Linked DNA regions of Homo sapiens. The protein of the gene in region 2 purifies or fractionates together with the protein of the main gene of each other region. This does not show direct contact. Each region holds a gene or a part of one and is shown on either strand. Other genes may lie near its edges. The genes, in order: ABCE1 and PTER.

What was found.
Region 1: the proteins of PTER (region 2) and ABCE1 fractionate together in Homo sapiens (co-fractionation; one large-scale study listed by BioGRID). This does not show direct contact.

Annotation. Positions count from the first base shown.
Region 1 is NC_000004.12:145,118,532-145,122,362, reverse strand, and holds part of ABCE1 (ATP-binding cassette sub-family E member 1), read right to left. Parts: intron 2,432-3,831; coding exon 2,210-2,431; intron 1,190-2,209; coding exon 1,130-1,189; intron 1,031-1,129; coding exon 972-1,030; intron 1-971. UniProt on the Homo sapiens protein: Nucleoside-triphosphatase (NTPase) involved in ribosome recycling by mediating ribosome disassembly. Able to hydrolyze ATP, GTP, UTP and CTP. Splits ribosomes into free 60S subunits and tRNA- and mRNA-bound 40S subunits.
Region 2 is NC_000010.11:16,485,358-16,489,188, reverse strand, and holds part of PTER (N-acetyltaurine hydrolase), read right to left. Parts: intron 2,838-3,831; coding exon 2,572-2,837; intron 1-2,571. UniProt on the Homo sapiens protein: N-acetyltaurine hydrolase that regulates feeding by catalyzing the hydrolysis of N-acetyltaurine into taurine and acetate. N-acetyltaurine has anorexigenic and anti-obesity effects that are dependent on GFRAL receptor and GDF15.

The DNA.
Region 1 (3,831 bases), on a different chromosome or scaffold from region 2:
ATGATAATGTGCTAGGGATGAATCCTAAGATGGCTTTTCCTTGCTGTTTCAGGATAAGGCTGAATTTTAGAATTTAAAGCTAAGCTTATAGAGAGCATCAATGACAAAACTTTTATGGTAAGCTAAGCCAAGTAGACAAAACATAAATTGAATGTTGAGGTACTGAGGAGTTCATTACAACACCCGCAGAAATCAAAGGAGGTTAACTTTAACAGAATGGTTTCAAGGACTGTGGCATTTGTTAATATTTCATTTCTTTTTATGGCTGAATAACTAAAAGACATTTGCTCATTTTTAATTATAAGAGTTCTTTATACATGCTGGATACAAGTCCTTTATTGGATATATGATGTGCAAATGTTTCTCCCATCTTGTGGGTAAAGCCTTTTCACCTTCTTGCTGTTGTCAATTTGCAGCACAAAATACATTAGGTTTTTAATTATTTATTTAGCAAAAAGATGACAAACATCTTTATTTTTTTATTTTTTTTTGAGACAGACTCTCGCTTTGTCGCCCAGGCTAGAGTGTAGTGATGCAATCTCCACTCACTGCAAGCTCTGCCTCCCAGGTTCACGCCATTCTCCTGCCTCAGCCTCCTGAGTAGCTGGGACTACAGGCGCTGCCACCACGCTCGGCTAGTTTTTTGTAGTTTTAGTAGAGACAGGGTTTCACCATGTTAGCCAGGATGGTCTCGATCTCCTGACCTCGTGATCTGCTGGCCTAGGCCTCCCGAAGTGTTGGCATTACAGGCGTGAGCTACTGCACCCGGCCAAAGATGACAAATATCTTTAAAGCACTTTCTTAGCAGTGGATATGAATCAAGGATTGGACTCTTAATACATTTGTTTGCAACTATCAATAAAACTGTATAGAATCTAATTTGGAGAAAAATTTTAATATAGTAAAAGATGAAAGCTATAGGCATATATACAAAATTTTCTTTAGTAACCATATAAAAAATAATAACTCACAGTTGATTTGGGACTAATTTTCTGTGGCTTATAACTGACATTTAGAACTGGTACTTCTCCTGCAAAATAATGAAATACATAAGACACTAAAAACTGCCCAGATCTTTAAAGTTTACTGTGTAAAACAGAGTAAAAAGACTCAACAGTTACAAATGTACCTCCTTCATCAGGTTTAAGTCTTCCAGCAAGCATTCTGATAAATGTCGTTTTACCCGTTCCTGGCAACACAACATATGACAGTTTGATCTGAAAGATGCTTGACGTTTAAAGTAAATCACTATGTCCTATTTGGTTTTAACTGAGAAATTTGTTTTAAAGATATACACTGACATTATTGAATTCTGAAGTTTATATAGAAAAATACTTAAGTCTTTCATGGCTCACCTCTGAAGTGTCATTCTAAGGTAATTAAGAGGAATAAAGACTAGTCAAAGCTTATGACAATTTTAATAAATGGTATGTCTATAAAGTTTAAATCCTGCAATAGTTTGAAAAGATCTACTTAGCTAAATTATCAGGGCACACAATTTATTAAGACAGTATAGACTGTTTTATGAAAGATAACTGTAATTTTAAAGTTTACTTATATAAAATATTTAAATTAATTGCAACCCAATTCAAAATTCCCATTATCTAAAGACTGATACATTGTAACAATCTTTATATAAAATTTATCTTCTATAGTTTTGTAAGCTGTAAGATTACAATTCAAATAGTTCTTAAATCATGAAGGCAATATCACATATTTAGTAGTCAAATTCATCTTATATCTACACTTATGACAATTTATTATGAAATATATGCTGGTAATACAATTATTTACAAAGGTAGATTGCTCTGAATTTAAAATAAGAAAAGTTCCACATTGAAGTGTATGAGGAAAAAATTTTTAAAGCTGGATTATTTCTGAATCACCATTTATCCTTTCCATCTTAGTCAATTTATAAGATTAATAACTGCCTTATCAATTTACATGTAAAAAACCAGCTGACAAAGAACACCTTATTTTCACTAGAGGTTATAAAACAAAATAAGAACTATTAACCTGATTGAATTACAGTGAAATTGAATTACACAATGCCAAAAAAATGTGAAAGTACACTAAGAAATTTGTGGGTTTAAATAAAACTCTGCTTCTAGCCCTATAACATATGATTCAAATTTTTCCACAAAACAGTTAAAACTAATTTACTAGATAAACAGGAAGATTTTTACTTATCACAAAACAGAAAACTTACCATTTTCCCCCAGCATCACCATAATTTCAGAATCTGTAAACTCTCCAGCTACAATTGCTAGCTCAAATTCTCCCATTTTTTTCTTCATTCCTGGATATTTATACATACACATCTTTTTAACTTCTTCTTCATTTGCTGTCTCAGCCACTTTAAAAACAAGTGATGCATCTCTGAATCTCAAGTTTTCTGTTGGAACATAGCCATCCAAAAAAATGTTTATGCCTGTTGGGAAGAAAATTGTCAACCGGGAGAAATCATTAGAGCCAAAATCCTAAGCTCTCTTGGGAGCAATCTATAGACTATATACTTTAAATTTCTGTGGATTTTTGCTAACATGTTGGTCTGCATATAAAGAAGTAACTTAAAAAACTATATATATTTAATGTAAGTTTAAATAATTCATGAATATATATGCATGTCCCCCCCAACCACATGAAGTACATCTTCTCATTATCCTGTAATTACTTTTTCCATCAGGTTTTATGCAAAAGAGAGCACATGATGTCCTTTTTGCTTTATCTTTAAAGCGAAAATGACAAATATGTAAGAGTATTTTCAGATTGATGTAATATTGATATAAAAGTTTGGGGGATAAATTTTTTAATATACAATGTTATCAATATTTAATTTCATATGAGACATAAGCACATATTTTGAGGTTATAATTTATTGCTTTAAAAAAATTAATCCTGCAGGTTCATATGAAATTGAATATGAGCTAATTCCAGTTAACATTTTTTTAATGGCTTCACTGTACAAAGATAACAACCATTATCTAAACAGATTTTAATAACTTAAATCCACATTGTATACAAGAACCCTCTGTAATAAAATTTTAAGATCTACAATGGCAGACACACTGAAATGAAAAGCGTATTTGAGAAACAATGAATAATCCATATTTCAGTGTTTCCTATATTTAAGTGAAGAGAAAGCTGAAGTTTCTTGGAAGGTCTTGACGTTATTCATTTTATTTGGAACTGAGAGACACATCATGCAGCCTGTATCCTCATCCTAGAACACAGGTGTTCAATACATCTTTGCTGACAGAACAAATGAACAGATTACATTTATTTTGCCAAAATCAGCATGTTTTTTGATCTTAAACTATCTAAAACCTATAAATGTGAAGTTAAAAAATTAAATAAAAACAATTACATAAAAACATAAACTCAAAGGAACCTTAGCAGCCACTTGGTTCAAATACCTAACTTATTTTGGAAAATAAAGGCTCAAAGAACTAAGTGACTTCGTTTAAAAAAAACACAGCAAGTCAGTCTTTACAGTCCTACTTCAATGTTTGTCTTGTCAATTTAAAAATGAGTTCAAACCATAATCACCTTTACAGTTTATAGAAAGCTTTTAAGTATGCTGCACTGATTTCAATATATTAAAGGAACAGAGAAAAACTAAAGTTTCTTAAGCTGTTTTAATAGATCGAGCACATTAAAAACCTTACTGGGTACCATTTACTGAATGGCACAGCCTTTAGACATGACATTTATAACTGGAGTTGTGAAGAATGACTGCCGAGTACCCATATTATTATCAACTTGATTCAAAGACTACCATATGGTATAGAGTAAGGTACTCAATACATATTTGTTAATTGACAAGAATAA
Region 2 (3,831 bases):
ATTCCGTTGGAAAGAGAAGTAGTAAATAGGAAGATCAAACTGAAGAAATTATAGCTCAGTGATGCACGTGGATGGAAATATGAAAGAGGTGTTAAGAAATACAGAGTATAGGTAAGAAAGCCCTACATATATCAAATTGGAGTTTGTGATACAGATGATAAATAACATGTGAGTGAAACAGTATTTAAAGAGATAATGGCTGAGGCTTTTCAGAAACAATGAAAGGTACATCCTTACATTCAGGAATCCCAAGGAATGCCAAGCACGCAATTAAAAGAAATTTATGACCAGGTACAATGGCATATGCCTATAGTCCCAGAACTTTGAGAGGCCAAGACGAGTGACTTGCTTGAGCTCAGGAGTTTGAGACCAGCCTCGGCAACAGGGCAAGAACCTATCTCTACAAAAAATATAAAAATTAGCCAGGTGTGGAGGCACATGCCTGTAGTCCCAGCTTCTTGGGAGGCTGAGGTTGGAGGATCACTTGAACTTGGGAGGGTGAGGCTGCAGTGAGCCAAAATCATGCCACTGCACTCCAGCCTGGGCAACAGAGAGACAGACTCTCTCTCTCTCTCTCTCTCTCTCCATATATATATATATATTTAAATTAGTAGAAATGCAGAATACTTGAACATGATAAATGATTATGTTCTAATAGACATATAGAACAATTACACTGTATAATAACTGCAGAATGCAACGCTTTTAAGAATCTAAAACATTTTATAAAATTTAAAAGTATTAGTGTAATACATTTTTGAAGGTATGAGGTACTTCACAATGTTTAAAAAGTATCATCCTTACTCAGTAAATGTGCTACATATATCCCATATCATACAAGGCAACATTATAAAATACATTGTTTTAAATTCAAATTAAGCTGTCCAAGATGTTACACCAATGAGAGTTAGAATTCAAAGTTCTCACTGGGTCCAAAGAGTCTAGTTTTCACAGTCTGATGCATTGTCTCTGTGACCAGTATATAGAAGCATGCCTCTACTTTATCAGTGCAACCAGAAGATTCCTCAAGATAGCCAAGTATGGATCTTGATACCAACCTGGTTGCCAGGAGAATTACCTTTATCCTATTATGCCTCAGTTTCCCCATTAATACTGACTTCTCTGTTCTGCTATAACTACAACTTGTTTATATTTCCTGCACATGATTTCACAGTATTTTTTATTAAGTAAAAGAATTTTTTTTTTCTTGAGACAGGGTCTTGCTCTGTTGCCTAGGCTGGAGTGTAGTGGTCATGGTTCACTGCAGCCTCATAAGGAGAGGCATTTTATCAATACATTTTGCAGGACTGTTAGTTTATGAAATAGCAATCTGTCTGGTCTGATAATCAGGATTTATCAATATGTTAATATGGCTTTACTCCAATAGGCAAGATAGAAGTAACTATAATATATTATTAGTCTCACTGGTGCTGTATTAATTCTATAATAAATTCAACTGAAGGCTAATGAGTAGCCTTAGCAACAGTTAGACTTGTTCATAAAATTAACAGCAGCTGGCATTTCTTCATTTAGTCATTCATTTTACTGTCCCCTATGCATCTAAAATAATATGTAGGGATTAAATGGTGAACCCCAACAAGATAGGTCCATATTCTAACTCTTGGAACCTCTGAAAGTGACATTATTTGGGGAAAAGGTCTGCAGATATAATTAAGTAAATGATCTGAGATGAGATTATTCTGGATTATCTGGACGGGCCATAAATCCAATGGCAACTGTGGTTGTAACAAACAGAGGAGAAGACATAGACAGTGAGGAAAAGGCTATGCGAAGACAGAGGCAAAAACTGTAGTTATGCAGCCACAAACCATGGAACAGCTGGATCTGAGGCTATGGAAGAAGCAAGGAAAGATTCTCCCTGCAGCCTTTGGAGGAAGCGGGGCCCTGACAAAGTTTCATTTCAGACTTCTGGCCTCCAGAACTTTGAGAGACTAAATTTCTGTTGTTTAGGGGCACCCAGTTTGTGATAACTTGTTACAGTAGCAATAGGAAACTAATGCATGATACTACCCAACACATGCTATACTTATTACTATTATTTTTTATAATTGCATTTTCCAAAATTCAGATGATTCAAACCACAAGTGACACAAATGTGAACATTTATATTTGCGGTTTTCTTCTCTGGGTGAAACCATTGACATTCCCTCCCTTTATATGTGTGATAACTTTATTACTCCAACTACTGGTAAACATTGAGCAAGTGGAATTGGCAGCTACTTTGATAGCATCCCATGAGACAAAGAAATGAAGTAGACAGTGACACCTGTTATGAGTTATAAAGGATTGAGTAAATTAAAGGAAATGACTTATGCGAAATATCTTATGTGAAATACCTAGGACACTATCTGACACAGAGGAGGGACACAAAAATGGCAGCATTGACTTTTATTCATGTCAGTTGTGAAACTTTATAAATACTACCTTCCATATAGTTAGTGGTTTTCTCTGCGTGATTAGTATTGCATTGACTGATTACTGTAGATTCTTAATTTGATCATGCATTAATTATATGGCAGTTTGCATCCATTTGTAAGACAGCCTACTTACCTATCCAGGTGTGACATGACTGTTTTGGAGATGTCTGCGCCTGCTTCTTGCAATATTCGGATAATCTGAAATGGTGCCCTGGAGCTCCGTCCAGGATGGATAATAACAGGACAACCAAGCTGAGCCTGGGCATGAGCTGTGGCCTGGAGAACCTTTCTTTCACTCTCAGTCAAAGGCCAGGAGCAACCAATTTCTCCAATAATGCCACACTTGATACTGGTTCCATCAGCTCCATGGAGAATTTCATTCATAAGGACATCGGTAAGCTAAGGAAGAGTGAGAAGGAATATATTTTATAGGTTGTGAAATTTATCAAAATAGATCCACCACAGTATGTGAATGAATTTATTTATTTTGTCATTCATTCTTTTAAAAATGTATTCAGTATTTATCAATTAATATTGGCCAAGGAAAAAGGCATTTTGCTGGCCAAATCAAAAATCAACAAGTTGCACTAAATCCAAGATTCGATAATATCATACCATGATTATTTAACAAGAAATTTATAGCTTTAGGAAGCTGGAGGGGGACAAAGTGACTTAATGAGAGTACATTCAGGATGAAGCAAAAAAAAATCTGTAACTTAACCTGGGGAGCAGCATCTAGAATATAGAAAGACCGCCAATGAATTGAATCTATGTCCCGTGTATCAAGTCATTCTTTTTCTTTCTTCTTTGTTTTTTTTAAAGAAGCAGAGGTCTCACCATGTTACTCAGGCTGGACTTGGAACTCCTGAGATCAAGTGAACCTCCCATTTCAGGCTCCCATGTAGCTAGGACTACACGCTTGCATCACCGCACAAGGCATCAAGAAATGCTTTAATTCTCTCCTATTTATTCCAGTCTTTTATCATAGACAGCATAGAAAATTCACAGCACACTATACTACTATTAGACTTTTGGGTTCATATGTATAGTTACCACTAAAAGTGGTTGGAAGAATATATAATCCTCATCATCAGCATAGTCTTTAAACAACAAAAATACATTAAAAAAATAAAGTCCTGGTTGGAAAATAATGCAGAAAAAATTTTGAAATACAAAATACTCCAGAGAGTAAGTGATCTTTTGCAAAGAATGAGCTGACACCCTATGCCTGTCATGCAGGCAATGGAAGATACATACGAATATATACATATATGTGTAAACATGTATAAATAGATACATGTGTGTTTAGAAAGAGAACACATACACGTGCAAAAAAGGTTTTGCACCTTATTCTTTTTGTCCCTAAACAATTTACTTCCTTCTGCCCATTCTT